Regions from separate parts of the Homo sapiens genome. Here region 1 is linked to region 2. Evidence: fine-mapped expression QTL. A gene starts in region 2. The other region holds a variant in brackets. All regions are shown on one strand. Distances are from middle to middle.

Region 1 (2,903 bases), 52 kb before region 2:
ATGTCTTTCAAAATTGGAGCCAATCCTCTCAAACCCTGCCATTGCTTTATCAACTAAATTTATGCAATAGTCTAAATCCTTTGTTGTCATTTCAACAATGTCCACAGCATCTTCACCAGGAGTAGATTCCATCTCAAGAAACCACTTTCTTTGCTCATCCATAAGAAGCAACTCCTCGTTTGTTCAACTTTTATCATGAGGTTGCAGCAGTTCAGTCACATCTCCAGGATCCATTTCCAATTCCAATAGTTCTCTTGCTATTCCCACCATATATGCAGTGACTTCCTCCAATGATGTCCTGAACCCCTCAAAGTCAACCATGAGAGTTGGACTTAACTTCTTTCAAACTCCTGTTAATGTTAATATTTTGACCTATTCCCATCAATCATACATGTTCTTACTGGCATCTAGAATGGTGAATCCTTTCCAGAAGGTTTCCAATTTACTTTGCCCAGCTCCATCAGAGGAATCACTATCTATGGCAGCTATAGCCTTATGAAATATTTTTCTTAAATAATAAGACTTAAAAGTTGAAATTATTCCTTGATCAATGGGCTGCAGAATGTTCTGTTAGCAGCATAAAAACAATATTACTCTCATTGTATGTCTCCATCAAAGCTCCTGGATGACCAGGTGCACTGTCAATATTTGGAAAGGAATCCTTTTTTCTGAGCAGTAGGTCTCAACAGTGGGCTTAAAATATTCAGTAAACCATGCTGTAAATGGATGTGCTGTCATACACGCTTTGATATTCCACGTATACAGCACAGGGAGAGTACACTTAGCATAATTCTTTTTTTTTTTTTTTTTTGAGATGGAGTCTAGCTGTCGCCCAGGCTGGAGTGCAGTGGCACAATCTCAGCTCACTGCAACCTCCGCCTCCCAGGTTCAAGTGATTCTCCTGCCTCAGCCTCCCAAGTAGCTGAGATTACAGGTGTCCACCACCACGCCCAGCTAATTTTTGTATTTTTAGTAGAGATAGGGTTTCACTGTGTTGACCAGGCTGGTCTCGAACTCCTGACCTCATGATCTGCCCACCTGGGCCTCCCAAAGTGCTGGGATTACAAACGTGAGCCACTGCACCCAGCCGATTTAGGGTAATTCTCAAGGGCCCTAGGATTTTTTGAATTGTCAATGAGCGCTGGTTTCAACTTAAAGTCACCAGCTACATTAGCCCCTAACAATAGTCAGCCTGTCCTTTGAAGCTCTGAAGCCAGCCATTGACTTCTTTCTAGCTACAAAAGTCCTAGACAGCATCTTCTTCCAATAGAAGGCAATTTCATCTACATTCGAAAGATCTGCTGTTTAGTGTGGCCACCTTCATCACTTATTTTAGCTAGGTCTTCTTTCCTTCAA[C/T]CTCACAAACCAACCCCTGCTAGCTTCCAACTTTTCTTTGCAGCTTTCTCATCTCTCTCAGCCTTCATAGAACTGAAGAAAGTTAGGGCCTTGTTCCAGATTAGGCTGTGGCTTACAGGAATGTTGTGGCTGGTTTGATCTTCTCTATCCAGACCACTCAAACTTTCTCCATTATCAGCAATAAGGTTGTTTTGCTTGCTAATCATTCGTGTGTTCGCTGGAATAGCACTTTTGATTTCCTTCAAGAACTTTTCCTTTGCATTCACAACTTAGCTAAATATTTGGTGCAAGAGGCTTAGCTTTCAGCCTGTCTCAGCTTTTGACATACCCTCCTCATTAAGCTTAAGCATTTCTAGCTTTTGATGGAAAGTGAGAGATGTGTGACTCTTCCTTTCACTTGAACACTTAGAGGCCACTGTAGGGCTAGTAACTGGCCTAATTTCAATAATGTTGTGTCTCAGGGAATAGGGGAGTCCAAGGAGGGGCAGATTTAAAGGAATGGACAGTTGGTGGAGCAGTCAGAACATGCACAACACATACTAAGTTCTGTCTTCCATGGATGTGGTTCATGGAGCCCGAAAACAATTACAACAGTAACATCAGAGATCACTGACCACAGATCACCATAACAGATTTAATAATGAGAAACTTTGAAATATTGCAAGAATTACCCAAACATGACACACAGAAAGGAAGTGAGAACATGCTGTTGGCAAAATTGTGCCAACAGATTTGCTTGGTGCAGGGCTGCCACAAACCTTCAATCTGTAAAGACACAGCATCTGCGAAGTGCGGTCAAGTGAAGCTCAATAAAGCAAGGTCCCTGCAGTGGCCGGGCTCCGACCCACTCTGCACCATGCAACCCCATGGTCGGGTTCGGACCCCCTCTGCGTCATGCAACCCCACGGCCGGGTTCGGACCTCTCTCTGCGTCATGCAACCCCGTGGCCGGGCTCCGACCCCCCTCTGCGTCATGCAACCCCATGGCCGGCTTCGGACCCCCTTCTGCGTCATGCAACCCCATGGCCAGGCTCCGACCCCACTGCATACCATGCAACCCCGTGGCTGGGTTTGGACCCCCTCTGCGTCATGCAACCCCGTGGCCCCGGGCTCCAACCTTCCTCTGTGTCATGCAACCCTGTGCTCCACCTCCACGTGTGCCGTGCACGCTCTAACACATTTCTCTTTGTTTTTCTCTTGCTAATCTGTCTTTGGCCAGAGTCTAATTTACCAATTTAATTGAGGCTCCCCGGTGGGAGAATCTAAGCTGGGTAGGCGAAAAAGATCCTACACAGCAAATACAGCAAAATCATCACAACTACTGAATCTGGGTGGAGCCATAGTGATGTTTCTTTCAACTTTTCTATCGGTTTGAAATTTTGCCTAGGATAAAACGGAAAAATTCTACTTAAGGAAACTATATACAAATTATTTTGTGAGGAGCAGTCCCTGTTGGTGTATCCTAAATCTGATGGGTACAGCTTTCACTGGTTTGCTATTTAGGCGGTGAGATCTGGATACTATTCTTCTCCATTTATTTTGCAATTA
Region 2 (2,834 bases):
TCTAAAACTGTGTACTCTGCTTTGCAACAGGATAAACCCGGTGGATAAAAGCTGAAATCCGACCCTGTCCTAATTAAGAGGCTAAGAAAAATGGAGAACCGCGCTGGCGTGGAGTTGATACAGAAACACTGCAAGGGCTGGGGACAGGGCTTAGTTCGTGGAATACACAGGCAGCACCACCAACCCGGCTCTCCGGAAAAGAGAAAGTCCAGTGAGAAAGGTGAAAACTGACAAGGCACCGTTCTCCGACTTGCTGAAAAAAAGACAATGCAAATAGAGCAGGGTCCAAGGCGGAAGAAAATCAGAGAAAAGCAGGCAGCCAAGCGTGGCGAACACAGCTCTCGGGGCCACCCCGGAGGGGACCCGCGGCGGCCGCAGCGGGGCGGAGGCCGAAGCCGAGGCCGCCCCGGAACCAGAGAGCCAGGCGGGAAGTGCACAAAGGCACGAGGCCACGCCCAGGAGGGGCGGGCCCTTTGGCCGGAAGGGGGGGGGCCGGCGCGCGGGGCCGGTCGCCTAGGCAACGGGCTCGCGTGGCGTCCAGGCTTCTCAGAAAGCCCAAAATCCGGGAGCTTTGGGAGGGTAGAGGGGCGACGCGGGGGAGGGCGGTCCGGGGAGCTGAATGGCCTCAGGACGCCGGCCGACCGGGTGTCTGCATACTGTGGGCGGCCTTTCCAAGTGTGGGGAGCGGCCTCCGAGAACGGTGTCCATGACACAGGGCGGGAAGAGATAAGGCCTAGGGAAGGCGCCCCTCGGGCCTATCCACCTCTTCTGGGGCTCGGCACTAGGAAGCAGCTTCCCTCTCAGGCCCCTTTGTCTCCAAGCCGTTCCAAACTGAGTACCGGGAGACGACACAAAGGGAGGGCGGTGACGGATGGCGCAGGCGCGGGAGCCGCCTAGGCTGCTGGGAGTGGTGGTCCGGCCGCGGAATGGGTAGGTCTCCCGCGCACTCTGCGGCCGCAGCTCAAAGGACACCGAGAGGGTGCCAGTGCGCATGCGCCGCCACTTCCGCCCGTGCCCGGCCCTCCCCTTCCTTCCGCCTCCCGGAGGACTTGGGTTTCTAGTAGTAAGAGTCCGGGGGGCATTACTCACGGTCTCCCCGCCTCCTCTTCATCGTGATTGGGCTGTCAAAGTGATGTTGGCAAGTAGATTGGCTACTGCGGTTGCCAGTTCTGTTTCGGGCCCTACTTATACTGCTCTGTGGGGCGGGGACGAAGAGTCAGGGGCTGAGGAGCGAGTTGCGGTAGTTGCTGTGTACCATGGTCTCGGAGGTTTCTGTCCCGCGGCCCGTTAGGTCCTGGTCGGGTTTTCAGCGAAGCAGGCCGCTCCCCTGCGTTTCCCAGCGGGCGTGCTGTGCCGCCCAACAGGCTCTGCCTCCAAGTGCCAAAAACTCCTAGTAAAGTTTGCGCCTCGCCCGCCGTCCACACCCCAGCGGCCCTGACGCTGTCCCCTCCGCGACCCTCGCCTCTGGAAAAAGTGACAGGCAAGGCCACGCCCCCGCGAGGGCCGGCCTGGAGCCCGCAGCCCCCAGGGCCTGGGACGGTGAGGGGCGTGAATGCGGCGGGGGGCGGGGCCGTTGCCGGGGGAGGGGGCCGGGGCGCATGCGCGCTGCGCAGCGGGGCTGAATGTTTCCCAAGTGTTTGAAACTGGTATTTGGGTTTTCCACGTTGGACAAGTGCGGCTCGGCGGCCAGCGGAGCGCGCCCCTTCCCGCTGCCCGCTCCGCTCCTCTCTTCTACCCAGCCCAGTGGGCGAGTGGGCAGCGGCGGCCGCGGCGCTGGGCCCTCTCCCGCCGGTGTGTGCGCGCTCGTACGCGCGGCCCCCGGCGCCAGCCCCGCCGCCTGAGAGGGGGCCTGCGCCGCCGGCCGGGGCGTGCGCCCGGGAGCCACCGCCACCGCGGCCCGCGCCCTCAGGCGCTGGGGTCCCCGCGGACCCGGAGGCGGCGGACGGGCTCGGCAGATGTAGCCGCCGGGCCGAAGCAGGAGCCGGCGGGGGGGCGCCGGGAGAGCGAGGGCTTTGCATTTTGCAGTGCTATTTTTTGAGGGGGGCGGGGGGTGGAGGAAGCGGAAAGCCGCGCCGAGTCGCCGGGGACCTCCGGGGTGAACCATGTTGAGTCCTGCCAACGGGGAGCAGCTCCACCTGGTGAACTATGTGGAGGACTACCTGGACTCCATCGAGTCCCTGCCTTTCGACTTGCAGAGAAATGTCTCGCTGATGCGGGAGATCGACGCGAAATACCAAGGTACGGCCGGGTGATGGATGGGCGGGGGCGGCCGCCTCCTTCCCGGCGGGTCCGGGCGCGCCGCGGAGCCGGGCCGGTCCTGCCGTGGACCGGAGGAAGCGGCCGGCTCCGCAGCGGCGGCCCTCGGCAGGGGCAGGAACAAAAGGTCTGGAGCGCCTTTGATTCGCCAAGGTCCTTGTGTGCAAAGCCCGGGACACGGAGGAGGAAGGAGGCGCGAGAGGTCTCGCTGCAAGGCTGCGCGACCAAAGCGCTCTTTGTAGTGAAGTGATGAGGCGGGTGCTGCGGGGGAGGGGGCGGCGGGTCCAAGCCGCGTCCTCTAGGAGGGGGTGCAGATTACGGCGCGAGATGGAGGGATGTGCCGGCGCCTGGGGCTATAGGGCGCCGAGACGGGGCTGCAGGAGGAGGGCGGCTGTGGGCCGGGGTTCCCGCGGACCCGGTGCCTCGGTCCCGGGCAACGCCGTTCCTCTGGCCCTTCTTCGTCGCCCCCCACTCAGTCCCGAATCTGAGTGTTACATAAAGTACCGGGTAGTACTCCGCTCGGGGTAGGTCGGCCGCCCCCGCCCAGCCCCCTCCGGCCCTCACTTGGAGCTGGACAC

Evidence for each region. PIP is the estimated chance that this variant, and not a neighbour inherited with it, causes the effect. A credible set is the group of variants that fine-mapping cannot tell apart.
Region 1: its variant is the best candidate, but not a certain one, in a credible set for the expression of ING1 in blood mononuclear cells (TOPMed, PIP 0.78).

What each region holds. Positions count from the first base shown.
Region 1 is chr13:110,659,971-110,662,873 of GRCh38, forward strand. All of the region lies in intron 9 of CARS2 (cysteinyl-tRNA synthetase 2, mitochondrial), which reads right to left. Among named protein-coding and RNA genes, the nearest start is that of CARS2, 45 kb to the right of the region's middle. The variant C/T (reference allele first, on the strand shown) is at 1,357.
Region 2 is chr13:110,712,048-110,714,881 of GRCh38, forward strand. It overlaps ING1 (inhibitor of growth family member 1), which reads left to right and starts at 1,653. Exons shown (of 2, transcript NM_198219.3): 1 at 1,653-2,238. The coding sequence starts at 2,103. It also overlaps a transcript of CARS2 not described here. RefSeq lists enhancers at 80-169, 770-819 and silencers at 310-649, 323-491, 1,490-1,839, 1,850-2,039, 2,200-2,489 and 1 more.